Linked DNA regions of Homo sapiens: region 1 is linked to region 2. The links come from fine-mapping of genetic effects on gene expression. A gene starts in region 2. The other region holds a variant in brackets. All regions are shown on one strand. Distances are between the middles of the regions. Region 1 overlaps PEX7 (peroxisomal biogenesis factor 7). Region 2 holds the start of PEX7 (peroxisomal biogenesis factor 7).

Region 1 (15,679 bases), 55 kb after region 2:
AAGCTAAAATTAGGCAAAAATATTTGAATAATGATTGAATGAATTTGGGCAATGTAGACATTCAATACTTAAGGTTAAATAAAAATCTTTTTCTCATTCTTTCACCTCCAATCTGTTTTTCCTTTAATATATTTTTTTAACTATAGTAATTCACTTTTAGTATTATGTTCTTTATAAGTTTCTAATTAGCGAGAGTCTCTACTTTGTTGAAACAGATGTAAAGAGATGGTTAATTCTTTCTTTTTCCTAACATGATAACATACATGACTGTTCACAGATGTTTGGGATATAGAAAGTTTTCTACTCTGTGAACAGCAGAGGATGAGGTAAATTTTTAATGATGGTCTCAGTAAATTTATCTGGGTTATAAGATGACTTAGGTTGGTTTCCTGGCTTTTATATTTAGGCAGGTTCTGCTAAATGACTGTGGAAAACATCTTATTAAGTGACATCTCCCAATTTCATCCTTTTGTTTTTTTACGTTAAGGATAAAAAAGTACCTTATTGATTATTTTAATAAGGTAATTATGTTATTCCTACTATTTAAAAAATTCTAAATTTTTTTTTCTTTTTTTTTGAGATGGAGTCTTGCCCTGTCACCCAGACACGATCTCAGCTCACTGCAACCTCTGCCTTCTGGGTTCAAGCTGTTCTCCTGCCTCAGCCTACTGAGTAGCTGGGACTACAGGTGTGCACCACCATGCCCGGCTAATTTTTTTGTATTTTTAGTGGAGACAGGGTTTCACAGTGTTGGCCAGGCTGGTCTTGAACTCCTGACCTCAAGTGATCTGCCTGCCTTAGCCTTCCACAGTGCTGGGATTACAGGCTGAGTCACTGTGCCTGGCCAAAAATTCTAAATTTTTAGTTAAGTTAATATTTTAAGTTTCTCTGGCTGCAATGCAACATAGGAGACACAGTGCTCTGTTTTATTTTTTAATAAATTTGTTTAATTGGACAAGTTTTAGCAGTTGAAAAATATGCTCTATGTATATTTTAGAGTGATTATGAGAATGAAATAAGGTAATGTAGTGAAAGTACTTTGCAAACTAAGTGCTGGTCAAATGTAGTTATATATGTGTATTTAACTATTAAAGTGCGATAAGACAAACACTGAAGAAATGTAATTGCAAAGGTCAACTTATTAAGTACATTATTACTCATCTAGAAGACGTTACTTGTCTTTAAACTTGCTTTTTACCCTTGATATAATTTTCCATTAGCTGTAATATACAAATAACGTAAAAATAACTTAAGGGTGTTTTTATTTAACATTTAAATGTTTATTTTGATAACGTGATTATAGCAATCATATATTTGTAAAATTGGTAAATTATATAATTATATATTTGTACTCTTATATACTTAAATCCCTTATATTTGTAAGAATCATTTTTGTTTATTACTTTGTTTGCTTTTGCTTTTTTTGAGCCAGAGTCTCTCTCTGTCGCCGGGGCTGGAGTGCAGTGGCATGATCTCGGCTCACTGCAACCTCCACCTTCTGGGTTAAAGCAATTCACCTGCTTCAGCTTCCCCAGAAGCTGAGATTATAGGCATATGTGCCACCATGCCCATCTAACTTTTGTATTTTTAGTACAGGCGGGGTTTCACCATGTTGGCCAGGCTGGTCTCGAGCTCCTGACCTGAGGTGATCTGCCCTCCTGAGCCTCCCAAGGTGCTGGGATTACAGGTGTGAGCTGCTGCATCTGGCCTGTAAGAATCATTTTTGGATAGCCAATATGAAATTGTATTTAATTTTTCCAGAATAGCAACATTTTGGGAATATTTTATTCTAAATAAGTTCTAAAAAGCTTGAGGGATAATTTTCTTTGGAGAATGTAAAAATATTTTTCCTGAAGATGGATACTTATAAGGCCAGAAGATTTTTGCCTCAAATTATAGCATATATGCTTTGAAAAAGCATAATTTTAAGTGACAGCTCTGACTCAACTTAAATTTATTATAATGTTTATGGAATGATCATAGAAAGCAGTGTTATAATCACAGCTGACTTCAAAAAGGGTTTTTTTTTTCTTTTTTTTTTTGTAGTTTTCACCATTTCATGCTTCTGTGCTGGCCTCTTGCTCGTATGATTTTACTGTAAGGTACAGTGGTTTTTAATACATTTCATTGTGAAATACCAGGTAACATTTGCATCTTTGCAACTTTTATAAGAGATAATATGATTACTCTTACTAACATGAAAATAATCTGAGATGGGTACATTTAAATATTTACTAGGATTAATATTATATTTTTCCTGTTTTCGTGATCCAGTCACATATATGAGTAAATTTTTTCTCTTCAAATATTAGCCTGGCTATTCTGTTTAAAAGCCATCTTTTCTAATAGATGTTCCTATGGTAACACTTTCCTACACTATAGATGGCATAGCCAATATATTCTAAATTTAGATATAGAAATTTGGAAATTGCATTTCTTCAGGTCTAATTATATGAGTCGTAAGGCTAAGATTGCTTAGATGAAAAAACAATGAACATGAGTGTATGATTTTTTGTGAATGTAGATATATGAACATGTATGTGTATATATGTGCATGGATATCTAGATAAGAGTGTGTGTGGGTGTGGGTCTCTATTTATACTTCCAGTTACAGTTCCATACCACAGAGGATTTATTTTCCCTTTCCAAATTTGTAACTCTTGACTTCCATTTTATTCACAATATATTTTCTTATGTGTTAAACCCTGTAATGCTTAGAAAGTAGTTCAGAATTGCAAAGCCATACCTTTGAAAAAAACAATCTTACTAATTAGAGCTCAGCACTTGCTTAGAGTTTTTTTTGTCTTTAGTTTGAATACTATATTCAGAAGTTACTTAGGTTAATTCTCCTCTTCTCTGTTAGAGTGTGGTTATGTTATTCACTTGAAACATGGTTTGATTCCTTTGTTTCTGTTTGTATTCAATTTTAGGGTTTTCCTCCCATCCTTGTTGATTTTGTCTAGGCAAAACATTGACATGGTTTCAAAAGTCAAGATGTACATAAAGATATATTCAGAAAGGTTTCCAGGATTTTCACTAAAATATATCCTGGAAATCATTCTGTATCAAAGAGATCATTCTCATTCTGCATAATACACCATTGTGTGGATGTGCTATAGTTTATTTGGCTACCCTCCTATCTATGGACATTTAGCTTGTTTTCAATGTTTTGTAAATAAACAGTGCCACAGTGAATGATAGCTTTGTGTTACTAGAGAATTAATGTCTGGTATTCCTAGAAGTGGGATTGCTGAGTTAAAAGGTAAACATATGTAGTTTTGTTAGATATTACCAAATTCCCATCCATAAGGAATATGCCAATTTTGATACTCAGTAGCAATGTTTGAGAGTACCTGTTTCTCTGCCTTCTAAAGATCATTGATTCATTAAGGTTTTCCAGATGTATGATCTTATCACCTGCAAATAAAGGTGGTTCTACACCTTCATTTCCAATTCTGATGCCTCTAATTGATTTTTCTTAAAATTCCCTCCACAAATACCACTAATACAGTGCTAAATAGTTTATAGAGAATGTCTGATTCCTGATATGAGTACAAACGCCTTTAGTGTTTCTCTATTAAAAATAAGATTCTGACTTTAATGCAAATTATATATGTTTACTTGTTTGTCATACTAAGAAAGTATGCATGAATTCCTATTTTCTTGAGTTTTTTTAATTAGGAATGGGTCTTAAGTTTTGTTGAAGGCTTTTTTTCCCAGCATTTATGGAGATAATCATGATTTTTCTTCTTAGAGATATGGCTATGATGTATTATATTAATGGATTGAACCAACCTTGCATTCCTGGAGTAAGTCTCTCACGTTCTTTGTGTATCATTTTCTCACCATGGTGTTGAATTGTGTTTGCTAATATTTTATTTAAAGCTTTTGCGTCAATATTCAAAGGTGATATTAGTTGCAGTTTTCTTTCTTTTCTCGTTTTGTTTAATGTGTCTGTGTTTTACTTGCTTCATAAAAAGAATTAAGAAATTTTCCTTTGTTTCCAAAGCTCTGGAACAACTTGTACAGCATTGAGGCTATTTGGTCTTTGAATCCTTTGTAGGATTGCTCTGCAAAACTAGTGGAGCATGGTGCTTTTTGTGGAGTACTTTCTTGATAACTTCATTTCTTTCATGGAAGTGAGTCTGTTTAAACTTTGTATCTCTAACGGGATCAAGTTTGGAAATTGTCCCTTGCTTTTAGGTTTTCAAATTTATTCGTAGAGGTGTCTGTAAAGTGGGTGGACACAGTGGCTCATGCCTGTATTCCCAGCACTTTGGGAGGCCAAGGTGGGCAGATCACCTGAGGTTAAGGGTTCAAGACCAGCCTGGCCAACATGGTGAAACCCTGTCTCTACTAAAAATAGAAAAATTAGCCACGCATGATGGCAGGTGCCTGTAATCCCAGCTACTTGGGAGGCTGAGGTGGAATTGCTTGAACCCAGAAGGCAGAGATTGCAGTGAGCTAAAATCATACCACTGCACTCCAGCCTGGGTGACAGAGTGAGACTTTGCCTCAAAAAAAAAAAAAAAAAAAAGTCTATAAAGGAATGTTGTAGGATTTCTTCTCTTTCATTGGTTGTTTTACTCTTGTTATTTCTGATTTTGTATCTTTAATAAGTTCTTTGAATATCTAGTGGTATGTTTATTTTGTTATTTTTCTTCAGCAGGCAGAATTTTAATTTATCAATTAGAACTACTTTTTTCAGCTGGGTGCAGTAGCTCATGCGTGTAATCCCAGCACTTTGGGAGGCTGAGGCGGGTGGATCACCTGAGGTCAGGAGTTCAAGACCAGCCTGACCAACATGGTGAAACCCCGTCTCTACTAAAAATACAAAATTAGCTGGGCGTGGTGGCACATGCCTGTAATCCCTGCTACTGGGGAGGCTGAGGCAGGAGAATTGCTTGAACCCAGGTGGCAGAAGTTGCAGTGAGCCGAGATCGTGCCATTGCACTCCAGCCTGGGCAACAAGAGCAAAACTCTGTCTCAAAAAAGAAAAAAAAAGAACTTTTTTTTTTTATTAATCACTGCTTTTATTTTTATTATTTCCTTTTTGGTACTTTCTTTTTGTTGTTCTTTTTTTCAGCTTCTTGAGATAGGAATTTATTTTTATTCTTTCATTTTGTTAAAGTATTTAAGGCTATAAATTTTTTTCTGGTTATTATTCAAACTATAGCCCATAGATTCTGATATATAATGTTTTCATTATCATTTTAAAACATTTGTAAGTTCTGTTTATACTTGCCTTTTCTTCCAAGAGGTGTATAATAGGAAATTATTTAGTTTCCATATGAAAATGCCTTTTAACTTAAAAAAATTTGTTAATAATTTCTACTTTTATTGCATTAAAATCAGAGAATACTATTTTAGTCATTCTGTTCTATGGAACATATTGAAATTTGGGGGAAGTGGAACCTAATAAATGATCAGTTTTTGTGAATGTTTCATTTGCAGTTCAGAAGAATGTACAGTCTCCATTTTCAGGCTGTAAAGTTCAGTATATAATCATAAGCTTACAAATTGATTATGTTGTTTAGGCCTTCTGTATCCCTTCTTATTATTGGTCCACTTAGTCTGAGAATGGTATGTTACTGAGAGTGGTATGTTAAAATCTCCTATCATTAGCAGGCTTCTATATCTCCCTGCATCTTTTGTAGTTTTGATTTTATAGAAACAGATGCTGTGTTTCTGGTATGTAGATATTATGGTGAATTGAGACTTTTAGCATTAAAGAATATCCTTCTTTGTCACAGTTAATGCTTTTTGTTTCAGTTATGCCTTGTCTCATATCAGAATCATTGCCCTCGCTTTCATACTGTGTTTACTTTCCAGATATGCTTTTCCCCATACCTTTTTTTTTGTTTTATCATATTTTCAATTCTTTCATTAAATTTTTTTTTTTTTGAGACAGAGTCTGGCTCTGTCGCCCAGGCTGGAGTGCAGTGGCACAATCTCGGCTCACTGCAAGCTCCGCCTCCTGGGTTCACACCATTCTCCTGCCTCAGCCTCCCGAGTAGCTGGGACTACAGGCACCCGTCACTATGCTAGGCTAATTTTTTGTATTTTTAGTAGAGATGGGGTTTCACCGTGTTAGCCAGGATGGTCTTGATCTCCTGACCTCGTGATCCACCCGCCTCAGCCTCCCAAAGTGCTGGGATTACAGGCGTGAGCCACTGCGCCCGGCCGATTAAATTTTTTTTATTATACTTTAAGTTCTGGGATGCATGTGCAGAACGTGCAGGTTTGTTAACATAGGTATATACGTGCTATGGTGGTTTGGTGCACCCATCAGCCAGTCATCTACATTAGGTATTTCTCCTAATGCTATCCCTCCTCTAGTCCCCCACCCCCCAAAAGGCCCCAATGTGTGGTGTTCACCTCCCTGTGTCCATGTGATCTCGTTGTTCAACTCCCACTTATGAGTGAGAACACGCGGTGTTCGGTTTTCTGTTCCTGTGTTAGTTTGCTGAGAATGATGTTTCCAGCTTCATCCCTGCCCCTGCAAAGGACATGAACTCATCATTTTTTATGGCTGTATAGTGTTCCATGGTGTATATGTGCCACATTTTCTTTATCCAGCCTATCATTGATGGGCATTTGGGTTGGTTCCAAGTCTTTGCTATTGTGAACAGTGCTGCAATAAACATATGTGTGCATGTGTCTTTATTGTAGAATGATTTATAATCCTTTGGGTATATACCCAGTAATGGGATTGCTGGGTCA[A/G]ATGGTGTTTCTGATTCTAGATCCTTGAGGAATCACCACACTGTCTTCCACAATGGTTGAACTAATTTACACTCCCACCAACAGTGTAAAAGCCTTCGTATTTCTCCATATCCTCTCTAGCATCTGTTATTTCTTGACTTTTTAATGATCACCATTCTAACTGTTGTGAGGTGGTATCTCATTGTGGTTTTGATTTGCATTTCTCTAATGACTGGTGATGATGAGCTTTTTTTCATATGTTTGTTGGCCACATTAATATCTTCTTTTGAGAAGTGACTGTTCATATCCTTCACCCACTTTTTGATGGGGTTGTTTTTTTTTTGTTGATTCTGGATATTAGCCCCTTGTGAGATGGATAGATTGCAAAAATTTTCTCCCATTCTGTAGGCTGCCTGTTCACTCTGATGATAGTTTGTTTTGCTGTACAGAAGCTCTTTAGTTTAATTAGATCCCATTTGTTAATTTTGGCTTTTGTTGCCATTGCTTTTGGTGCTTTAGTCATGAAGTCTTTGCCCATGCCTATGTCCTGAATGGTATTGCCTAGGTTTTCTTCTAGGGTTTTTATGGTTTTGGGTTTACATTTAAGTCTTTAATCCATCTTGAGTTAATTTTTGTATAAGGTGTAAGGAAGGTGTCCAGTTTCAGTTTTCTGCATATGGCTAACCAGTTTTTCCAACACCATTTATTAAATAGGGAAACCTTCCCCCATTGCTTGTTTTTGTCAGGTTTGTCAAAGAGCAGATGGTTGTAGATGTGTGGCATTATTTCTGAGGCCTCCTTTCTCTTCCATTGGTCTATATATCTGTTTTGGTACCAGTACCATGCTGTTTTGATTGCTGTAGCCTTGTAGTATACTTTGAAGTCAGGTAGTGTGATGCCTCCAGCTTTGTAGGATTGTCTTGGCTTTATGGGCTCTTTTTCGGTTCCATATGAAATTTAAAGTAGTTTTTTTCTAATTCTGTTAAGAAAGTCAATGGTAGCTTGATGGGGATAGCATTGAATCTATAAATTACTTTGGGTGGTATGGTCATTTTCACGATATTGATTCTTCCTATCCATGAGCATGGATTGTTTTTCCATTTGTTTGTGTCCTCTCTGATTTCCTTGAGCAGTGGTTTGTAGTTCTCCTTGAAGAGGTCCTTCACATCCCTTGTAAGTTGGATTCCTAGGTATTTTATTCCCTTTGTAGCATTTGTGAATGGGAGTTCACTCATGATTTGGCTCTGTGTTTGTCTATTATTGGTGCATAGGAATGCTTGTGATTTTTGCACATTGATTTTGTATCCTGAGACTTTGCTGAAGTTGCTTATCAGCTTAAGGAGATTCTGGGCTGAGACGATGGGGCTTTCTAAGTATACAATCATGTCATCTGCAAACACAGACGATTTGACTTCCTCTCTTCCTATTTGAAATCCCTTTATTCCTTTCTTTTGCCTGATTGCCCTGGCCAGAACTTCCAATACTATGTTGAATAGGAGAGGTGAGAGAGGGCATCCTTGTCTTGTGCCGGTTTTCAAAGGGAATGGTTCCAGCTCTTGCCCATTCAGTATGATAGTGGCTGTGGGTTTGTCATAAGTAGCTCTTATTATTTTGAGATACTCTCCTTCAATACCTAGTTTATTGAGAGTTTTTAGCATGAAGGGTGTTGAATTTTGTCGAAAGCCTTTTGTGCATCAAAAATCATGGGGTTTTTGTCATTGGTTCTGTTTATGTGATGGGTTATGTTTATTGATTTGTGTATTTTGAACCCCCATACCTTTATTTTTAAACAGTTTTGTTGAACCATTTTGTTCTAGGTATGTTTTTGTATAGAGTATATATTAGGATCTCGCTTAGTGAACAAATAGTCTTTTTATTAGAATATGTAAGTTTAACTCTTTCATATTTCTTGATAAAAATGTTTAGCATCGAATGTGTCATATTTTATGTTATGATTATTATTTGTATTTTATTTGCTATGTTTCTGTGTGTGATGTGCTTTTTTGTTGTGTTTTTTTCTTTGACAAATTTTTTTTGACATTTAGGTAAGTTTTTATATGTTTTAGTGGTTGCCTTTGGTGTTACAACTTTTTAAATGCCTTCATAAGTTTTCTGAAAAAAATTAACCGTTTATTGCCTGGTTGTGAGTTTTTCATTATATTTTTGTGAAATCCCACCTATTTCTTATATAATAACCAGTGAACTTGTTCTACTTTCGCTTTTTTTTCCCTTTTCCATCAAATTTTGTTTCATTTATGCTTTGTTAGAACATGCAACATGTAACATATAGCACATATCATATGATATATTTTTACTTAGTTTCTACCTTTGTTTTAGTCTTAAGTGTATAATTAAATATATTAAGTGCTCATTATCAGTTTTTTATTCCTAAGTTTCCCTCATTATCTGATGCAGTTTATCTTCAGGAAATGCCATAGATTTCTCAAGAGGGACTGATGGGCATAGAATTCTCATGAACTCTCATATGTTTAAAACTATTTTTCTGTAGCTTTCCTACTTGGAGGATAGTTTAGCTGAATATAAACTCCTTGATTTACATTTCTTTCTTTGAGGTTTTTGAAAATGCTACTATGTTTTTATCTTGCTTTCTATGTCGTTTTTGAGAATTCTGATGCCAGTCTAACTCTCTTTTACTTGTAAGTTGTTTGGCACCACCCCGACCCCAACCATCAATCCTTTCCCTCCTCCTCGAGACCCTGGGGAAAAAGAACCCTTGTTGCATTTCAGTTTTTCTTGCTGCAGGCTCAGTGAGCTCTTTAAGTATATAGATTTGGGTCTTCTTTTATTCCTAGAAAGTTTTTTGAATTACAATTTTAAATAATAGTTCTACTTAATTGTTTTATTTTCTGTGGAACTCCCATTATGTATAAAAGGACTCTCCTTTACCTGTCTTCTCTCTCAGGTACTTTCTGTCTGATACTTTTTCCTTCTATATTTCTTTATCTCATTTTCATTCTTTTGGTTGTTTTCCTGTTGTCCTCAATGCCCTTATTATGTTTTTGTGTGAATCTGCTCTTCTTGGGCCCCAATGTAATTCTGTGTTTATTTGTGAAATGATTTTGCCTTTTTTCTTGTGTTTCTTCAGTTCAGTCAGGTCTGTTTCAGTTCTTCTGTTTTTGTCCACTTCTTTTCTTTGTTTTTGAGTTCCTGATCAAGGGTTTTGTTGGTTTTTTTTCTTCCATGTCCCTAAATGCTTGCTTGAAGATAATTTGATTCAGTTTAGAATATGTTACGGTTTTCTACTTCACTATTTTTTTTTTTGAGGGAAGCTTTTGTCAGATGAATTGTTGGAATTCTTGTAACCATTTATTTGTGTATGTGTGTGTTTTTAAAAATAAATAAAGACTTTTTTGTCTCTTTATATCTGTGGACAGGGTTGATGGTTTGAGGTTGGCACCTTTCCTTCCTTTTAATTTTCTTTCACCCCTAAACTATCAACTTTCTAAGATCACCTCCCTGTATCCAGTGTACTTTAAAATCTGTAATCTAATCTTTATTATGCCTTTTTCCAGTATTTTCACTCATAGGATGCACTTTCTCTTTCTCATGATGGTTTTAGGTCAGCGTTAGACCTAGTCCTAGCTCCTGCCCTCTCTGTACCATTCAGTGTTCCCCACACTGTCCTTGCCATTCACACAGGCTTGCAGCTGGAACAAGGAAGAGAGCTCATAGGGATTCTGTTTTGATTTTTCTTCTTACAGTTAATTTGAAGTTTGGATGTGTGGAAGACCTGAGGTTTGTGTAGTTTTATTTGTTCTCTTTGTTGTTCTGTATTGGTTTTTGTAAGAATACAGTAACAGTTTTGGATTTACATGGCCTCATTGCCTAGACTCTCCTCTCTCCTCACTTCTGAGTCCGTATTAGATATGGCCCAGTCTATATAGCTTTGTTTGTATAAAATGTACTTCTAATAGAATAAATTACAACAATGCTTTGAGATGTATTTCATGCCTTAACTTGGTTTTCTTGATTCATTCAATACAAGCGGGCAGACAGCTGGGAAGAATAATCACATGGAGGCTCCCAGCTCTCAAAAGTGTACTTTAACCAGGCTTTTGTTTGTTTTTTAGTATTCCATATAAAATAATAAGTAGTGATTATAAAGTTTTCAGCCTGGGAACTAACGAATGGCAACACAACAGAAAGGAAGAAACTGGAACTGTGGAGCTAGATCACTGGCTGGAGGTTAAGGCTGTGCATGTAGATTTGGACACCATTTACTCACTGATAATTCAGTCCATAAGAATGAATAAGCCAAAGGGAGATAAGTGTAGAGAAAGAACAAAAATTCCCTCCTTCAGGAGGGAGTTCATGTTGGAAAGCAGGAAGGAGCAGCCCACCAGGAACAGGAGGAAACCTTAGAGCATGCAATAGTCACAGAAGCTGTGGGAGGAGGGGCTTTCAACAAGGTGTGAATGGCCAGTAATGTCAGATCCACCAGATAGGTTAAGCAGTATGAAGAGAGAACTTGGAATCTTCTCTTTTTGTCGCTCATGGATTCAAAAAGATATCCACATATAGGATCTAGTTCTTGGAATTCGAACACCTTTCTGGCATTTGAAGCAAGAAGGCATAAACTGAGATGAGACATTAATCTTTTGGTGATCTCATATTTGGTATTCTTAACAGTTTTAATTGGGACATCTTAAATCCATTTCAGTGCTTTGTTTCTGATTAAAGAGAAAAATCTAATGACTACTGAGACTTTCTTCTCAGAATTGTCATTTTGATCTTAATCCTAGTGACTGACCACTCCCTGTTTTATGTATTTAAGTACCCCTAAACACCCTGTGGGAAAATGCCTTGTTCTCAGGAATGTTTGTTAAGACTGGATGTCAACTACATTTCTGAAAATCTTGGGAGTATCAAACCATGCTCAGAATCATCATAGTTTTTGGCTTTCAGTCTTACTTTTCTCTCCACTGTTAAATGCTGAGTCCTGAGCAAGGACAGGGAGCGGGGGATAGATATTTAGTGCCCCTGGGGAGGGAGGTGGCTTAGGTCATGGTCCTGAGACCAGATCAAAGGTGTTGTAGCTATATTTGTAAGCACTTGGAAAAATTGAGATTTATAGTTCAATAATAGGAGATCTTTAACGTAAGTTAAACAGAAAGTTAAGAAGATATTTGAAATCAATGATCGTGTATAACTTAGAGTCCAGGTTTCTTTTATTAATGTGTAATATGGCAACTAGTGATATCTGTGCTCACAAGCTCACAGGGTGATTACAAGAAATATATGAGAAGACGTTCTTGAAAATACTATGATAATTCTTAATTGCTTTTCCCCCTCTTCTTCTTCTTTTTTTTTTTTTTTTTTTTTTGAGACAGTCTTGCTCTGTCACCCAGGCTGCAGTGCAGTTGTGTGATCTTGGCTCATTGTAACCTCCACCTCCAGGGTTCAAGCGATTCTCCCACCTTAGCCTCCTGACTATCTGGGACTACAGGCACACATCACCACACCCAGCTAATCTTTGTATGTTTAGTAGAGACAGGGTTTTACCATGTTGGCCAGGCTGGTCTCGAACTCCTGACCTCAAGTGATCTGCCCACCACAGCCTCCCAAAGTGCTGGGATTATAGGCGTGAGCCCCCGCACCTGGCCCTTTGCCTCTCTTCTAAAGCCATCTTTCCAACCCTATTCCCTGCACATTCAGCAAAAGATCTTACCTTTAAAATAATAATAATAATAATAATTGTGGGACTCAAGCACAAATTATCTTAATTTCTAAGCTGGGCCTGCAGATTTTCTCTAAATCTGTACCTCTTCATTCCTCCTGTTATTTAGATCCCTTAGACATGTGTGCTGTTGATCCCTCGTACTTGTTTTCTTCAGGACTTTACGCCGTGAAGTGACCTGTTCTCCCCCTATATCTCTCTATATCTTTAGTCTCCAACTCTTTAGTGACTTTTTCCTCAGCCTGTAACATTTTCCTTCATCCTGCATTTGCCTTTAACTCCTCTCTTACATCTCTCTTTTTTACTTAGCCAAGCTTTTAGTGTCCGCATAAGCTTCCATTCACCAGGGCCATTTTAAGGTCTTCACTGTCCCAGCGTACTCTGTGTTGGAGGTCTTACCCTGGATCACTAGAACCTATAAAATGGATCTACATCACTGATTAAATAGGGTTAATTATTTTGAAAAGATTTGTGGCTTTTGCTTTTGAAGTGATTTGGATTGAGTAAGTCACTTATGATTGATTATGACTTCTTGGCAATCATTATGCTTGCTAAGGAATTCATGTGAAGTAAAAAAGAAACATCCCTAACCTAGAAATTGTTTCCGAGTGGAATGAAATGTTTCTGAGTGCCAGGTTTATCAATTAGTAATGTTAATTTATTAATTTTAAATTTAATTATTTTAAGTTTAATTTAAATGTTCAGGTCTCAGGCATTTTTGTAGACCTTTGAAAGCTTATAGGCATAGGCACTTAAGGTTCTTCCTAATGGCACAACTAGCTTCAGTCCCTCCTTCTTTACTGAAATTGCTCTGGCAAAAGCCACTAGCGACCTCTGTAAAACCAAATCCAGTCCACTTGTCAGCATTTGTCATGCTGAACCTTTTTCTGTTTTACACCGTCGATCATACCTTCCCTTCTGGAAACTCCTTATCCTAAGGATTCCATGTTCTTTTTTGTTTATTTGTTTTTCTTACTCTCCTCTGACCCTTCCTTCTTAGGGTTCATCATAGAATCAGTCTCCTTCTCTTCCCCTTAAACTTGGTCGTCTCCCTTTGGTTTAGAACTTTTTTTACATGCCCGTTCTAAATGATAATTTCCAGCCCCTGTGTCAGGTCTGGCCTTTCTTGAGAGCCTTAGGCCTGCATATTCAGCTGTTTCTGGACACAGGCACCTGAGTGTCCAAACAGGAATCTCACACTGAACTCCTTCTTTGCTTGTTTATCTGTGTTATTTATCTCAGTTAATGGGAAACTTATCCCTATTCAAACAAGCCAAAAACCTGGAATTCTCCTTTTTCTTGAAAAATTGGTAAACATTTTCCCAGTACGAAGTGGAGCATTGCTTCACAGGCAGTATATAGAAGCAACATCATTTTTTTTAGAAATATAATTTTAATTTTAACATTCGTTGTAGCTACTAAATTACTGTTTCACCTCCATGCTAAATGTAACTGGAGGCTAGTGATTGCATATTCCAATATAGGATTATCGAAGACTTTCTTGTAACAAGGAAAATAAATAGAAAAGGAAGCCAAAATCATTTGAAAACCCTTCACTTTTGACTATATTACATGTATATATATTTGTAATTCTCAACACATGTCGAGAATAAGACTTTAATCGTTCTAATGCCTGTGTGAGTCTAGTCTCATTATTTGAATGTGGTGACCACTGATTGGAAAGGTCAGAAAAGGTGCATTTTTGGTGGATTTTTACTCCATGTGATATGAGTTAAATTTATCCTCTGAAGAATTTTAAATCTGATTGGATTGATGATATTTTTAGTGTCAGAAAACCATTTTAACAAGAAGAAAAAGATTTCAGATATAAGACCAACAGTAACCTGTTTAATTTTTAGGACTGATAACTATACAGATACTACCTTTAGATTCTCTGGATGGCTAATATTTGCAACACAAGCTTTTTAAATATAAGTTTTTAATTTGTTGCCCATTGTTATATTTAGGTTTGTAAATTTTTCAAATTTAATTTTAAAATTGTTTATATGGTGGGTGTTATATCAAAACTGATGATATGGTGGATATTTTAGAAAATGTAAGTTTCATATTTCTATTTGAAATTCATGTTGCTATTTACCAAATATAATAGAAGCTTTAAGACCTTTACCTCTGTAGTAGCTCATTACATTTCACAGAATAACTAATGAAGATCTAAGAAGTGATATATAACATAGCATTGGAAATTGTTTAGTATGGTTTATGTTAAATAAAAACTTCAACTTTTATGAAGAATATCAGAACTCCCTTCAGCTGGTGGACAATATAGTCTATCAAAATACATCTTGATTCTTTCTAAACTTCACTCAAGATAATACTAAAGTTAAAATGTTTCATAGTAGATTATTTCTATTCTTCCATGAATGTTATCATCGTAGATTTTAGCATATTATCTTTTTCCTATATACTGTCCCTTAAGTTAGTTAACTTCTCTTCCTGCCAAGCCACATTTGTTGTGCCAACCGTGCATAAGCATTATTTGAGTTGTAAATGCTTGTTTTTGGTTTCATACCAAGTAGATCATTTCATAAACAGAAAAGCAAACCAGGTATGTATGACAACCAAACAAAAGTAAAAGCTGTTATAATTCATAGTTTTTTTCATTAGGAAGAGCAGCATTCCGTGTCTTCCACATTGTAGCAAATTCTCAGATATCTGAAGATTTTAATTGATAAAGCTAAAATGACCAGTTTAGCCTCAGAGTAACACTCCAGTTTCATGATACTTTTATAAATATTATAACCTTTAAAACTTTTTTATCAGTGGTCTTAATGGCCTTTGATAATAATAAGCCAGACCAAGCACTTAATTTTTTTAGACATATGGATTTGGGGGCAAGAAAAATATAAAGTGAATTTTAATTTCAGTGTTGTCAAACTGTATTCAGCCACAGTTTGCGTGATGTGAGTCTCTCTCTGCCTATGTCAGCAACATTAATGTTTCCAACTCAACTGTTAAGCTACTTTTTGGTGACAAAATTGTACAACTGTACTCTACTTTAAAATTCAGGCATATTTACAGAATGTCTGTTATCTGCCAGCCATTGTAATAGACAGTTTGAAATGTCTTTTTGAGGAAATGATAAAAATGAAGGCTTGGAGACAAGTAGTAACACACCTAGGAGAACCCTAAGCCTGTCAGTTTTGTTGGTATCGTGGGACATATGTAGTCACAAATGTAAATAGGGAGTACTGGAAGATATATATTCAATAGAGTAATTATGGGTTGGCACATTCCCAGGTAACATAGTAGGACCACAGA
Region 2 (15,679 bases):
GGTTGAGGCTGCAGTGAGCTATGATTGCACCACTGCACTCCAGCCTGGGTTACAAAGTAAGACCCTATTTCAAAATTAATTAAATTAAATTAAAACATCAGTTTATGTATGTAATTTTCTAATGTGATAAATATGATAAAGAGATCAATAAAATGATTTCAAGCATAAATGAACATTACATTAGAGAAAATTCTACAACAGAATAGTAGAATGGAATTACAAGTTCAAGAAGAAAAAGAAATGACAAATTTTTCTTTTTTTGATTTTATCTTATTATTATTATATTTTAAGTTTTAGGGTACATGTGCACAATGTGCAGGTTAGTTACATATGTATACATGTGCCATGCTGGTGTGCTGCACCCATTAACTCGTCATTTAGCATTAGGTATATCTCCTAAAGCTATCCCTCCCCACTCCCCCAACCCCACAACAGTCCCCAGAGTGTGATGTTCCCCTTCCTGTGTCCATCTGTTCTCATTGTTCAATTCCCACCTATGAGTGAGAATATGCGGTGTTTGGTTTTTTGTTCTTGCGATAGTTTGCTGAGAATGATGATTTCCAATTTCATCCATGTCCCTACAAAGGACATGAACTCATCATTTTTTATGGCTGCATAGTATTCCATGGTGTATATGTGCCACATTTTCTTAATCCAGTCTATCATTGTTGGACATTTGGGTTGGTTCCAAGTCTTTGCCATTGTGAATAGTGCCACAATAAACATACGTGTGCATGTGTCTTTATAGCAGCATGATTTATAGTCCTTTGGGTATATACCCAGTAATGGGATGGCTGGATCAAATGGTATTTCTAGTTCTAGATCCTTGAGGAATCGCCACACTGACTTTCACAATGGTTGAACTAGTTTACAGTCCCACCAACAGTGTAAAAGTGTTCCTATCTCTCCACATCCTCTCCAGCACCTGTTGTTTCCTGACTTTTTAATGATTGCCATTCTAACTGGTGTGAGGTGGTATCTCATTGTGGTTTTGTGGTTTTGATTTTCATTTCTCTGATAGCCAGTGATGGTGAGCATTTTTTCATGTGTATTTTTGGCTGCATAAATGTCTTCTTTTGAGAAGTGTCTGTTCATGTCCTTTGCCCACTTTTTGATGGGGTTGTTTGTTTTTTTCTTGTAAATTTGTTGGAGTTCATTGTAGATTCTGGATATTAGCCCTTTGTCAGATGAGTAGGTTGCAAAAATTTTCTCCCATTTTGTAGGTTGCCTGTTCACTCTGATGGTAGTTTCTTTTGCTGTGCAGAAGCTCTTTAGTTTAATTAGATCCCATTTGTCAATTTTGGCTTTTGTTGCCATTGCTTTTGGTGTTTTAGACATGAAGTCCTTGCCCATGCCTATGTCCTGAATGGTATTGCCTAGGTTTTCTTCTAGGGTTTTTATGGTTTTAGGTCTAACATTTAAGTCTTTAATCCAACTTGAATTAATTTTTGTATAATGTGTAAGGAAGGGATCCAGTTTCAGCTTTCTTTTTTTTTCTTTTTTTAAAATTATTATTATACTTGAAGTTTTAGGGTACATGTGCACAATGTGCAGGTTAGTTACATATGTATACATGTGCCATGCTGGTGTGCTGCACCCATTAACTCGTCATTTAGACAAATTTTTCTAACAGTTAAAAATGACCTTGTTCGAATGTTTTTTAAAAAATTGATAGTAGTGGATAGCAGGCTTTATAAGATGGCCCCCAATGATCCTTGCCCCCAGGTATAATATTTATGCCCTTGTGTAATCTCATCCCCATGAGAGTGGGCTTGACCTAAAGACTTGCTTATAACAAAGAGAATACAGCAAATGCGATGGGATGAGGCTTCTGAGATAAGGCTATCAAAGCACTATGATTTCTATGCTGCTCTCCTCTTTTGCTCTCTCTCTCTCTTCTGTGTGCTCTGAGGAAAGCCAGTTGCCATATTATGAACTACCGTATGGAGAGCTTCATGTGACACAGAACTGAGGGAGGTCACTAGCCATTAGCCAGCCATAAACTTAGGCCCTCTGCCCTATGGTCCATAAGAAACTGAATCCTGCCAACAGTTACTTGAGGAAGCTTGGGAGTAGATCCTCCCCGAGTCAAGTCTTCAGATCACCCAGCAGCCCTGGCTGACCCCCTGATTGCAGTCTTGTGAGAGACTTTTATCTGCCCCAGAGAAACTGTGAGATAATAAATGGTTGTTTTCAGCTGTGAAGCTTAAGGACAATTTGTTACACAGTAATAGATAACTAATATAATAATGATAAGTACCAAAAGCCTATTGTTTTTAGAATCCATATGATACATTTAAGGTTGATCAAATATTTTTACTTTTAAAGTGACATTAATTTTCAATAAACTTGAAATTATGTCATTTGCAGCTATTTAAAGTTACGAGAAAACATTTTAGAGGGCAACTTAAAACGTAGATGTGCTTCATCATGATTATAAAGTATATGAGCCAAAAAATTAGCAAAGTACTAACAGCATTGAGAAATCCTTACTTCTTGGTGATAGCAAAAGAGGTTAAGAGAGAGAATCAAGAGTGAAATGGGGCCAGGCACAGTGGCTCACATCTGTAATCCCAGCACTTCGGGAGATGAAGGCAGGCAGATCATTTGAGGTCAGGAGTTTGAGGCCAGCCTGGCCAACATGGTGAAACTCCGTCTCTACTAAAAATACAAAAATTAGCTGGGCATGGTGGCATATGCCTGTGATCTCAGCTACGTAGGAGGCTACGTAGGAGGCTGAGGCAGGAGAATTGCTTGAACCTGGGAGGTGGAGGTTGCAGTGAGCTAAGATCATGCCACTGCACTCCAGCCTGGGTGACAGAGTGAGACTCCATCTAAAAAAAACAAAAAAAAAAGAAAGAAAGAAAGAAAGAAAAAGAGTGAAATGGGAACTAGAGGGTTTAATTTTCTGCCATGAAGAAGTAATTTTAATACTTGAGCCAAGTTAGAATGCACACAACTAAAATGATAGCCCCTGCCAATTGAGGGCTTACAGTTACACATGATACCTGCCCCATTTAATCCTCACAACAACCTTTTGAGGGAGATGTTATCAGCATATGGATTTGAAACAGCCAATGTATCACACCTCATGTTGTTTTGTTGAGTTGAGCCTGCAGAAGAGGCACCTGTCTATCCAGCCATGTGGGGAATCAAGGAGCTGTCAGTACATGTGCAGCATCATCTAAAATATTAATCCTACCCAAGAGCTGAAAGTAGATAAATAGATGTCACACACTTTCCACCACACAAGCTAAAAAGCATAAGGCCTGGTTTCAATCCCAGGTTTCTGACTCTAAACACCATGCTCTTAATTGCTGTCTTTCCAGAAAAAGACGAAAAGACTAAATGCATTTTCTACTATGATCAGATTATACCAATTGCTCTTATATTTTTTTTCTCTCCTTCCACATAGAAGTGCAGTAAATGTATGTCCTAAACCAACACTCTAGTTAAGATTCTAATTTTATTGTAGCAAAATATACATACCATACAATTTACCATTTTAACCATTTTTAAGCAGACATTTCAGTGATGTTGAGTATATGCACATTGTTATACAATCACTGTCATCTATTTCCAGAACTTCATCTTCCTAAACTGAAACTCCATGCCTGTCACACAATAACTCTCCATTCCCCACTTCCCCTTGCCCCTGGCAACCACCATTCTATTTTCTGTCTGTATCAATTTGACTACACTATGTACCTCATATAAGTGGAATCATACGGTATTTGTCCTTTTATGCCTGGTTTATTTCACTTAGCATAATGTCTTCAAAGTTCATCCATGTAAGAATATCCCTCCTCTTTAGGGAAGAATAATATTCCACCATATGCATATATTACATTCTCTTTATGTGTTCATTTATTGTCTTAGTTGGTTCAGGCTTCTATAACAAACTATCATAAACTTGGTACCTTATAAACAACAGAAATATATTTATCACTGTTTTAGAGGCTGGAAAGTCCATCATCAAGCCATCAGCAGCAGGTTTATGTCTGGTGAGGTCCCACTTTCTGGTTCATAGATGTTCACTTCTTGCCGTGTCCTCACGTGGTGGAAGGGGTAAGAGGGCTCTCTCTCCAGCCTCTTTTATAAAGGTAATCATCTCATTTATGACCTAATTACATCTCAAACACCCCACCTCTTAAAACCATCACATTGGTGATTAAATTTCAACATATGAATTTGGGGGGGACAGAAACTTTCAGACCATAGCATCTGCCAATGGACACTTGGGTTGCTTTCACCTTTTGGCTATTATGAGTAATACTGCTGCAAACAGGAGTGTACGAATATCTGTTTGAATTGCTGCATTTAATTCTTTTAGATATATACCCAAAAGTGGAATTGCGAGATTATATGGTAATTCTATGTTTAATTTTTTAAGCAATTGCTATCCTATTTCCCATATCAGCTGCACCATTTTACATTACCACAGATTCTAAAATTTTTAACAAGAAAGTATAACTAAAATAATAAGTGATGAATGATATAAAACGAGCAAGGTAGACAATTAGCCCATAATTAGAGACTCTCAGAGCTTTAAGGGTCTCTAAAGTGCATCAGTCCAAGTATCCATCATATATTTGAAGATAGTGCTTAAAGTTCTTGGATGATGATTACATTAACCCTCTGGCAAACATTGATTAAAGGCTAACTAGGTACCCAGCACAATGCTGTGCAGAGCTAAAAGGAACAATGAAATTATCCATCCTTTCTTGGAATTATTTCCCATAACTACCATATGCAGCCTGCCGATTTACCTAGGATAATGATTCACCTGGGTAGAAAGACCACGTATTTCAATTATTTTACTTCTGGTCTCTCTCCATGGGAAAGATAGACTAGTTTTAAAAATGATGTGGGTTGGTAAATATTTGCAGTTAGAGTCTTTGTGAGGTCACCATAGCAGTTATAAAACAAAACAATCTAAATATAATTGTAGATCCTTATAGAAACCTGACATCTAGCCATGTCTGCCTACATTATTAGGCCTTCCACAGAGTTAAATGGTCTTCCACAGAGTTGGCCAAGTTTAGAAGTTACACAACTCTGAGGTGTAATGAATGCTCATAAAAAATGGTTTCTGTCTCAGTTGGGAAATACCAAGTACTCCTAAACAATGACAAGAACAGGTGGAAGACAACAAAAAGAGTCTTTTTTTTTTTTTTTTTTTTGAGACGGAGTCTCGCTCTGTCGCTCAGGCTGAAGTGCAGTGGTGTGATCTCAGTTCACTGCAACCTCTGCCTCCAGGGTTCAAGCGATTCTCCTGCCTCAGCCTTCTCCAGAGTAGCTGGGATTACAGGTGCCCACCACCATGCCTGGCTAATTTTTGTATTTTTAGTAGAGACAGGGTTTCACCATGTTGGCCAGGCTGGTCTCAAACTCTTGACCTCAAGTGTTCTGCCTGCCTTGGCCTCCCAAATTGTTGGGATTACAGGCATAAGCCACCATGCCCGTCCCTTCCAGGCAATTCTTAACTCCAATTCTATCCATACCCCTAGCAAACTTGGACTCCACTTAGTAAAGCATGGGTGGAGGAAGGGGTGTGGAGCAAGGGCAGGGGACAAGGAGAATCTAAGGAGCATTTCATGTTCCTTTTCCTTAATTTTCCAGTTCACCTCAAGTTGTCAAACATTTGTGCAGTGTTTACTATATATTGGACATTCTTCAAGGTACTGGAGACACAAACAAATTAGACTTGGACATTACTTCGAGATGCTCAAAATCTAGTGTAAGAGTATGGTTTATTTTTTATATGTTTAGTTGTTTATATTTTAGAAAGCTTCACAGGTGGGATGAAATATTTTACAATGCTATAATCATGTATGGTTAGGTAAGGAGCAGGTAATAGCTCAGTTTGTGTGTGTGTGTGTATGTCCAAGGTCACTGTAAATAGTTTACCCCAGCTGGAACCAGCCTTTCTCCCTCCCAGAGATACCACACTATTTTTAGCTTAGATTGGATAACTCTTTATATACAACTCTTTGCCAAGGTCCCAGCTGCTTCATGTTTGCTTACTTTGATATTTTATTAACGCCTATTTAGCATTTCAATAAACTCCAGAATGTTTCCAGGTTACTTTTTGTAGTATTACGAAAAACACACTGATCATTTAGGCACTGTATTAGGCTGCATTCACTCAACATTTCCTGAATGCTTAAATACCAGGTCCTTGGGATACAACAGCGAACATAACAAGCAAAAATTTCTGCCCTCATGCAGCATACATTCCAGTGACTACATATGATAAAAATCCAAAATAATAGAGGCCACACTGGTCTGGATCCTCAAGTGATCCGCCTGCCTCGGCCTCCTAGTGTGCTGGGATTACAGGTGTGAACCACCGCGCCCGGCCTGCAAAAGTCTTTTAACTGGCCTCCCCATCTCCAAACTCTATCCTCCATATTAGTGTTGCAGGACTTTTTAAAATAAAACCTTGGTCATTTAATTTCTCACATTAGAAAACTTCCACTGTTTTTCACTGTTTACAGTAGAAATCCAATTCTCTTAGTATGGTATATAAGACTCTTCATGATCTAGCCCCAGTAAAACACTCTACAGTCTCCCCACCCAATATTTTTTTCACCGTATCCCTTCCATCTGGCCAGGCTGAGTCCTGGCAGCCACGACCCCCTATGGATCATGCTGGTTTAAATCTCCTGGGTTGCTCATGTTATTCCTGCTCCTACAAAGATCTCCATCTTCTTGTCTACCTAAAGAAAACCTACTCATCTGTGTGCAATCACCATAAAGACTTATCTCTCTTCTGCAGCCTTTCCTGCAATTTCCATACCTCTGGCACGGACAATCACCTTTTAAAAATACCCCATATAAATTTATCATAGCCTCTACAGTATTTTGATTACACTTAACTAATTACATGACTTCTCTTTTAGTCTTCTTCTCTAATCTCTTGAGGCCATGGACCATATCCCATTATTTTGAATCCCAAATGCCTAGTACTGTTCTTGGTATATGGTTAAGATGATCATACGACTTGGTTTGTGCCTGTTGACCTGGCTTAATAATTACACCCTCTTTACTCTCAAAAGTATCTTGGTTTGGCAGATAAATTATATTTGGTCATTCTCCACATAGTATATGCCTGGCAATAAATGAATGAATGAGCACCAGCATCTGAGCACTTATTACCATACAATATATACATGTATAGTAATACTTTTTAAAAAAGTTGTATATGATGATGTGCTGCTTTTTTGCTTAGCTTCATTAGAACTGGCCAGCTCCTTTTTCTCACTTGCCAAGCATGGGGAGTTGGTTTGGAGTTGGTGTTTCATCTTTTCCAGTTACAGTGTGAAAGTAGCCCACCAGCCCACGCTCTTATTCCTAAAGACCGCAGTGACTCCACGGACTTAAGTTCTCATTGCTTCCAGTTTCCTTGGGCAACGCAGCACGCAATTTTGGACGCGCTGCGTGGTTTCAGAGTCGGCTGTAACTTTTCTCACTTTATAATCATCAGGAAAAGTTCCTGATGCCAGTCTTCCAAACGCTCAATGAAATAAAAACCAGATAGCACCGCAGAGGAGGCTGAGATGCAACGACAAAAGCTGTCGTAATTATTAATAATACCTAACCCTGGATCACTCCCCTGATAGATCTGTATCTTTGCAGCAGGCGCAATTCAGTTTGGATTCACCCAAAACAAAAATGGTCTCCGTCGGAGTCAACGCCCTTTCCTGTGCGGACCAATCAGAATCTCAAACACAGGGCACGGGGCCCACACTTCCGTCCGGTCTGCCTGGTCTCTCTAACCGCGCCAGTGTGCCTCCGACTCGGAACGGCTTCCGCGGCCGGGGCAGCGAGGGCCGGGGGCGGCGGGCGGGATGAGTGCGGTGTGCGGTGGAGCGGCGCGGATGCTGCGGACGCCGGGACGCCACGGCTACGCCGCCGAGTTCTCCCCGTACCTGCCGGGCCGCCTGGCCTGCGCCACCGCGCAGCACTACGGCATCGCGGGTGAGGCGGCGCCGCGCAGCTGGGGCCGGGGGGCGGAGGCGGAGGCGGGGGCCAGCCGGGCTCCAGTTCCTCGCGCTCGAGGGAAAGCCCCTCTGAGCGTAGACGGTTCCGCGGGTCCACGCCAGGGGGCAGAAGAGGCGCTGGTCGGCGCTTCTCCTTTCTTTGCCGAGTGCGAGGAGTTGGTCTGAAGCAGGAGTCGATCTTCCAGTTGTGTGCAAGTGCATATACGTGTAGCCTAGTAGCCCGTGTCCTTGTTCCTTGAGACCGCGCTGCCTCCGCCACGTGTCACACGCCCAGGCACACGTCCCCGTAGGGAGAGCCGGGGGAGCCTGCGCGGTCCCTTGGATCGGTCCGCTCGGCACAGCAGTACGGGGAAGACGGTCTGAGCCAGAACCGACCCAGGGCTCGCGAGTTGGCCCACAATTCCCAGTCTGCATTCGAGCACTGAGCTGCGACCTGCGGGCTGGCCTTCCTAAGGACGATGCTCCTGAATGGACGCCTGGAGTCCCACGGGTGACACCATGAAATATATCAAGTTCAGTTCTTACCTGTAGTTGTCTAACGAGGAATGCACACATTCGCAAGTAGGTGTTACAGACTCCAGTTAATTGTCTCCCGTCGCGCGCATTGGCTCAGCCTGTGGTTAAAGCTGCTCAGGAGGCTGAGGCGGGAGGATCGCTTGAGCCCGGGATGTTGAGGCTACAATGAGCTGAGATCACATCACTCTGCCCCAGCCCAGTGAGCTGAGATCACATCACTCCACTCCAGCCTGGGTGACAGACTGAGACCCCGTCTTAAAAAGAAAAAAGGCCAAGCGCCGTGCGGTGGCTCACGTCTGTAATCCCAGCACTTTGGGAGGCCGAGGTGGGCGGATCACTTGAGTTCGGGAGTTCCAGACCAGCCTGACCAACATGGAGAAACCCCATCTCTACTGAAAATACAAAATTAGCCGGGCGTGGTGGCGCATGCCTGTAATCCCAGCTACTCGGGAGGCTGAGGTAAGAGAATAGTTTGAACCCAGGAGGCAGAGGTTGCGGTGAGCCGAGATCGTGCCATTGCACTCCAGCCTGGGCAAGAAGAGCAAAACTCCGTCTCAAAAAAAAGAGTCCATCTAGTCCGTGGACTAGATGAAAAGGCGTAGGTTCATTCTCGCTTTTGCCTTAATTCATGTCCTAGCTATTATACGCACTGAAGCGAGATGCAAAAACTCATTTCATAATGTCAGTGGTCTATTGTATTTTTTTGTTTTGTCCTACAGCAGAAAAAAATGTTACTTCTAAAACTCAGAGAAATACTTGATTTATTTTCATTATTAGCTCTTAGTGCTTGCACATTCAGATTTACATGGCCCACCAGTTAGACTGAAGACTCATGAGTCTATAATGGTAGTAGTTTTCTTTTTTTCTTTTTTCTTTTTCTCTTTAGAGACAGGGTCTCACCCTGTTGCCTAGGTTGAGTAGAGTGGTGCAATCACAGCTCACCGTAGCCTCCACCTCCTGGGCTCATATGATCCTCCTGTCTCAACCTCACCAGTAGCTGGGACCACAGGCATGTACCATCACACCTGGCTAATTTTTGATTTTTTATTTTTGTAGAGACAGGGTATCACTATGTTGCCCAGGCTGGTCCGGAACTGGGTGCAAGCGATCTTCCTGCCTTGGCCTCCCAAAGTGCTGGGATTACAGGCGTGAGCCACTGTGACTGGCCTGTAATGCTACTTAAAATCTTATGCAAAAACTCTTTAAAGGGAATTGGTATTTAAAAAAAAAAATTCAGTCATGTTTAAATAGAAGAGATTTTCCCCCTTGGTCTCTATAAAAAGTAAACATAACTTTTAAAATACAATGGCCCTTTGGTAAAATAATCTTTGACAGGTAACATATTAATACTGTTTTCAGCACTTTATTACCACCAGTTATGTAGTAAATCCCACCAAGTATCTCCGCATTCATATTTTGTTTTAAAATCCTGTGTGAGATGTGTTTTAGATTTACTGGTGAGGAGTGCAGTCCCTGGGGTCTGTAAGCCAGAGGTTTCTCATCTGTCAGTAGGAATGATAACACCAACTTGGAAGGTTTGTGTCTCTGGTGCCTTGTCTGGCTACAGAGTAGGCCCTTAAGTATTTCACCCCCCTGTTAGGTCCATGTCTGAATTCCAATCATAGGTGCAATGGGAAGTTGAATATTTAGTAACTGAAGTACAATATGGAAAAACAGAAATAGAGAACACATTTGGTATTCATGTCCCAAAAACTTTAGGGAGAAATTGATCACCTGACCATTTGGTATTCAAGGTCCCAAATACTTTGGGGAAAAATTTGTGGTATTAAAATCAGGTATCAATTACTTGATAACTCCTTGACTTTCGATGTTACCCTGGCAGGTTCAAAGGGATGACCTTGATTTTTTTTCTCTTTAGGCTGTGGAACCCTACTAATATTGGATCCAGATGAAGCTGGGCTAAGGCTTTTTAGAAGGTAAGGGGGCTGAAATTATTAAAGGTATATATTGTTGCTATTAAAGCCTTAATAGAATTAGGTTTTGACTCTTTGATTAATGTTTTAATATACAGTATAAAAGGAACCTTGGCGTTTGCATAGGATGAAGCTTATTTTTAGCTGATTGTGGTGGTGCGCACCTGTAGTCCCAGCTATTCCCAAGTCTGAGGCAGAAGGATCACTTGAGGCCGGGAGTTCAAGACCAGCCTCGTGGGCAACATAGGAGGACCCCGTCTCTAAAAGAAATTTTTTTTTTTTATGCACAGAGTCTGGCTCTGTCACCCAGGCTGGAGTACAGTGGCGCCATCTTGGCTCAGTGCAGTCTTCCCCTCCTGGGTTCAAGTGATTCTCCTGCCTCAGCCTCCCAAGTAGCTGGGATTATAGGTGCCCGCCACCACACCCGGCTAATTTTTGTATTTTTTAGTAGAGATGGGGTTTCATCATTTTGGCCAGGCTGGTCTCAAACTCCTGACCTCAGGTGATCTGCCCACCTTGGCCTCCCAAAGTGGGTATTATATGCGTGAGCCACTGGGCCCAGCCTAAAAATTTTTTTAATTTTTAGGCCGTAGTCCCAGCTACTTGGGAAGCTGAGGTGGGAGGATTGCTTGAGTCCAGTTCAAGGCTGTAGTGAGCTGTGATTGGGCCACTACACTCCAGCCTGGATGACAGAACAAGACTCTTTCTCTCAAATAAAAAACAAAACAAATCTGAAGCCTGTCTCTTAGTGTCCACTCATAAATTATAAAATTTAAACATAAAAAAATGTGGAGCAGTATACTGTGTACTATTACATTTTTGGACTACTACATTCCACTGGACTGTTTTTTTTAACCTTTCTGAATCTGTTGCCATATTTGTCAAGTACCTACTCTACTTAACTCCCGTAGTTGTGCAGATTACATGAGATATACGTGTTAAAATGTGTGATAAATTGAAAGAAAAAAAACCATAATTGTTATTTTTTTTGTTGTGTAGCTGCCTATGTAAGTGTTGTATTTTTTTGTTGTTTGTTTTTTCCTAGTGTAGCTTTGACTGGAATGATGGTTTGTTTGATGTGACTTGGAGTGAGAACAACGAACATGTCCTCATCACCTGTAGTGGCGATGGCTCGCTGCAGCTCTGGGACACTGCCAAAGCTGCAGGGCCACTGCAAGTCTATAAAGAACACGCTCAGGAGGTAGGAGGGAAATCTTTCTGGGCTGATTATTTTTCTTTCTTCGACTTTGGTTGAAATCCATTTGGGGATGGACACATGGAGAAATATCTTCAGGGGACAAGTTTAAACGTTAGCATTTCTTATACATACTAGATGTCACTTATTATTTGATTATTCAAACATAAAGTACCTCTTGGCCTAAGGAGTGGGGAAAGAAAAGAAAAGGTCAGTCTTCTCATTAGGCAGAAAGAACACCTCCAGCAGTGTACTCTGGCACCATTTCCTCCTGAGAGGCCCATCACTTTCTTTGTGCTCTAAGAATGTGCTTGCCACATGGTGCCTTAAGGTAGAGGTAGGTGGACTTTTCACATAGACATCACAAGATTGCCTTTGGGGCTTCAGTGAGATTCCCGAGGTGTTTCAGAGTATATTGGAGCAAGAGCATAAAATACTGAGTATGAGGCAGAACTTACTGAAGGGATTTTATATCTAAATCTGGTTCATGTGTCTAGATTTTGTGTGTGTGTATGTATAGCATAGAAAATAGTTTGGGCTTCAGTTGTACTAACATACATGTATATTTTCAGTGAACATAAAGACATCCTCTTTTTGTGTTTTTACCTTAAATGTTTTAAGATTTTCCTTAAGGGAGCAGTACATCCTTCAGATGAAAACTTGCTAATCTACTTTCAAATTTTTGTCCACCACAGTGCCTGGCCCGAGAAGGCCCTCAATAAATGCTTATTAGATGCAAGAATATCAGTCTTTTGTGGTAAAGATTAGTTATGTGAGGGGTCCAGATGTTTTATAGCTGTAGCTATTGACAATCAAGATTTCTAAGATTGTTACTGAAATAATGAAAAATTTTAGTTTCTATTTTAATTATGATAGCTATTTGAATAAATGTAGTTGTAAATTACTATGTTTTCAGGGAATTACTGAATATTAAGACAATTTTGGTAAAGGAGAAATTTTAGTTTCAGGATAATCAATGCACGAATCTCTACAGAACAGTATGTCCAAAATTCAGATACTTTTGTGGAACCTGTGTGAATTTGTGTGTGTGTGTGTGTGTGTGTGTGTGTGTGTGTGTGTGTGTGTCAGGGTCTCACTCTGTTGCCCAGGCTAGAGTGCAGTGGTGCAATCTTGGCTTACTGCAACCTCCACCTTCTGGAATGGGCTCAAGCCATTCTCATGTCTTAGCCACCCGAGTAGCTGGGATTACAGACGTGCGCCACCGTGCCCTGCTAATTTTTGTATTTTTAGTAGAGACGGGTTTCACCATGTTGGCTAGGCTGGTCTTGAACTCCTGGGCTCACATGATCCACCTGCCTTGGCCTCCCAAAGTGCTGGGATTATAGGCGTGAGCCACCGTGCCCAGCCAATTTTTGTGTGTGTGTGTTTTTTTGTTGTTGTTTTTTTTTGTAGAGATGGAGTTTCGCTATGTTGCCCAGGCTAGTTTTTGTGATGTTTGACATCTTTTTATACCACTTGTATTATAATGTATTTCTTTTCCTTCTTTCTTTTTTAAAAAATATTTTTCTTTTCAGAAGTTTTTTTTTTCCTTTTTCTTAAATCTTTGGTGCCTTTTATTATCTATATAAATTCAAGGATGATAACTGACATCATAAAATAATATAGCTAGTTAAGGTAAATTCAATATATTGACTTAATGTTTTTCTTTCAATCAAGTAAAGTCGTTGCTTCATTTATCCTAAAACAGTAATATTCATGAAACAATGGGGTTGATGGCTACTTTAGTATGTACATTTATTTGTTTTTAGTGTACATTGAGATAAGTAAGTAATGAATAAAATAAATGTATGTACCAGTTAAAATAATCTCTGGTGTAACTACTCTCTGGAAAATACTGTTCTAGGATATCCTGGATGGATGCTCACTCAGTCTTTACTTCCTGTCAGTGAAAGTAAATTTCACTTTCTCTTGAGATAACTTATTTGACTTTTAGGTTGTTCTGATTATTAAGAAACTGCTTCTTGTAATCCCAACTCTACCTTCTATAGCAACCAACTGCTGCTTTTAGTGTCTTTCTCTGAAGTGGCAAGACCAGGTCCAGCCCCTCTTGTCCAGGAAACCTCTTGAAAATAGCCATCGTGCTCTCTTCCAGACTGTGCACTTGTCATTTCATTGTCCTGTCCTCAGATGACATGATCTGTACGTCTTTCATCCTTCTGATAGCCTCCTTTGATAATCCTGTTTTTCAACTCCCCTTTCAACATATACCTAATTTATTCCAGAAATGTGATGAAGGGCTAAGCTTTATAAGATTTTACCACCATAGTCTTGAGCCCCTAGCTCTAATAATATTACCTAAAGTGGCTATACATTGTTCTCAGCCATGTCTTAGTGTTAGGTTACTTTGAGTCTGCTAGTAACACACTTACCTCTTTTGTTATTTGAACTGCTATTAAACCAGTTTTACATCATTCTGTGATTTTGCAGCTGATTTCTTGAACCGAAGACACACTTCTGTTTTTTAATTTTTTAAATTTGTTTTGCGTACTGCTATTCTAGTTAGACTTCCTCGTTTTCTTTTCAAATGCACTTTTTGGTAAGCGTTTGTATCAGGATGCCTTGAATGTTAGTGTAATAGAAAACAATTAAATGGCTTCAACAGTCAGAGTTTACTGTTTCACATATTTTGCTTGGTTATGTGAAAAATAAATGAAGATAACCTTTTTAGGTATTTGTTACAGCAGCACCCCTAATTCTTGGCACCAGTTTCTGCCTCAGTCTGTTCAGGCTGCTGTAACAAAGTATTATAGACTGGGTGCCTTATAAAGAACAGAAATTTATTTCTTACTATTCTGGAGGTTGGAAGTCCAAGGTCAGGGTGCCCACATGTTTGGGTTCTGATGAGGGCCCTCTTTTAGGTCAAAGACTACTGCTGTCTTTTCATTGTATCTGCAGGTGGTGGAAAGAGAATGAGAGAGGTTTGGGAAATCCCTTTTATAAGAGCACTAATCCCATTCATGAGGGCTCTACATTCATGACCTAATTACCCCCCAGAGGCCCTACGTCCTAAAACCATTACACTGGGGGGTTAAGATTTCAACATGTGGGTTTTGTGGGGATATATTCAGTCCATTGCATATGCCAGATACTCAAAAATACTTAAAAGGATTTAAGCTCAAATGAGAGTTTTAAGGAGCTAGTAAATATTTGTTGAATAAATTAATAAATGAGGCTGAGTGCAGTGAGTCATGCCTGTAATCCTAACACTTTGGAAGGTCGAGGTGGGCAGATCACTGAAGGCCAGGAGTTTGGGACCAGCCTGGCCAACATGGCGAAAACCCCGCCTCTACTAAAAATAAAAAAATTAGCTGGGTGTGGTGGTGCACACCTGTAGTCCCAGCTATTTGGTGGCTGAGGCACAAGAATCATTTGAGCATGGGAGGTGGAGGTTGCAGTGAGCTGAGTTCGTGCCATTGCACTCCAGCCTGGACAACAGAGTGAGACCCTGTCTTAAAAGAAAGTTATTAAAAAAAAAAGTTGATAATGAACATAGCCAATTTCTGTTTTTTTTTTTTCCACCAGTATGTTCAGGGAAGCTGTGTTGTGAAATAGAAGAGCAACTAATGGGTCATTTTCTTCTGTGGAAGAGAGTATATAATAAAGACGTATAGCATGGTTTTAGTCAATCTTGGATTTGAATCCCAGCTTTGTAAGTTACCTGTTGTGAGACCTTGCGTATGTCACATATTTTTCCTAAACTTGAGTGTTTTTATTTGCAAACTAAGTTTATTAGTAGTCTGTATCACAGACCAGCATTGAATAAATATGAGCTAGTATTATTATTTGCTCTTATTATAATAGGGTTTGAAAAATGTAAAACAAGTTAGAACTTTTCCAGTTACCCACTTTACCACTTGATGGCTATGTGTCCAACAGTCAATTTTCAAGTTGTCAGATGAAGCAAAAAAGAGAAATCCAAGATTTAGATATATTTTAGGCTTTGAGGAGTGAAGGTCTTGGTGAAATGAAAAGAAAGAAAAACATGGACATTATCTGTGTGAATGGTT

Evidence for each region. PIP is the estimated chance that this variant, and not a neighbour inherited with it, causes the effect. A credible set is the group of variants that fine-mapping cannot tell apart.
Region 1: its variant is the best candidate, but not a certain one, in a credible set for the expression of PEX7 in whole blood (INTERVAL, PIP 0.76).

What each region holds. Positions count from the first base shown.
Region 1 is chr6:136,870,152-136,885,830 of GRCh38, forward strand. It overlaps PEX7 (peroxisomal biogenesis factor 7), which reads left to right. Exons shown (of 10, transcript NM_000288.4): 8 at 2,047-2,102. Among named protein-coding and RNA genes, the nearest start is that of SLC35D3, 44 kb to the right of the region's middle. The variant A/G (reference allele first, on the strand shown) is at 6,724.
Region 2 is chr6:136,814,813-136,830,491 of GRCh38, forward strand. It overlaps PEX7 (peroxisomal biogenesis factor 7), which reads left to right and starts at 7,780. Exons shown (of 10, transcript NM_000288.4): 1 at 7,780-7,983; 2 at 10,402-10,459; 3 at 11,507-11,657. The coding sequence starts at 7,854. RefSeq lists enhancers at 7,351-7,500, 7,384-8,116, 8,117-8,849, 8,231-8,390 and silencers at 7,681-8,060, 13,526-13,726.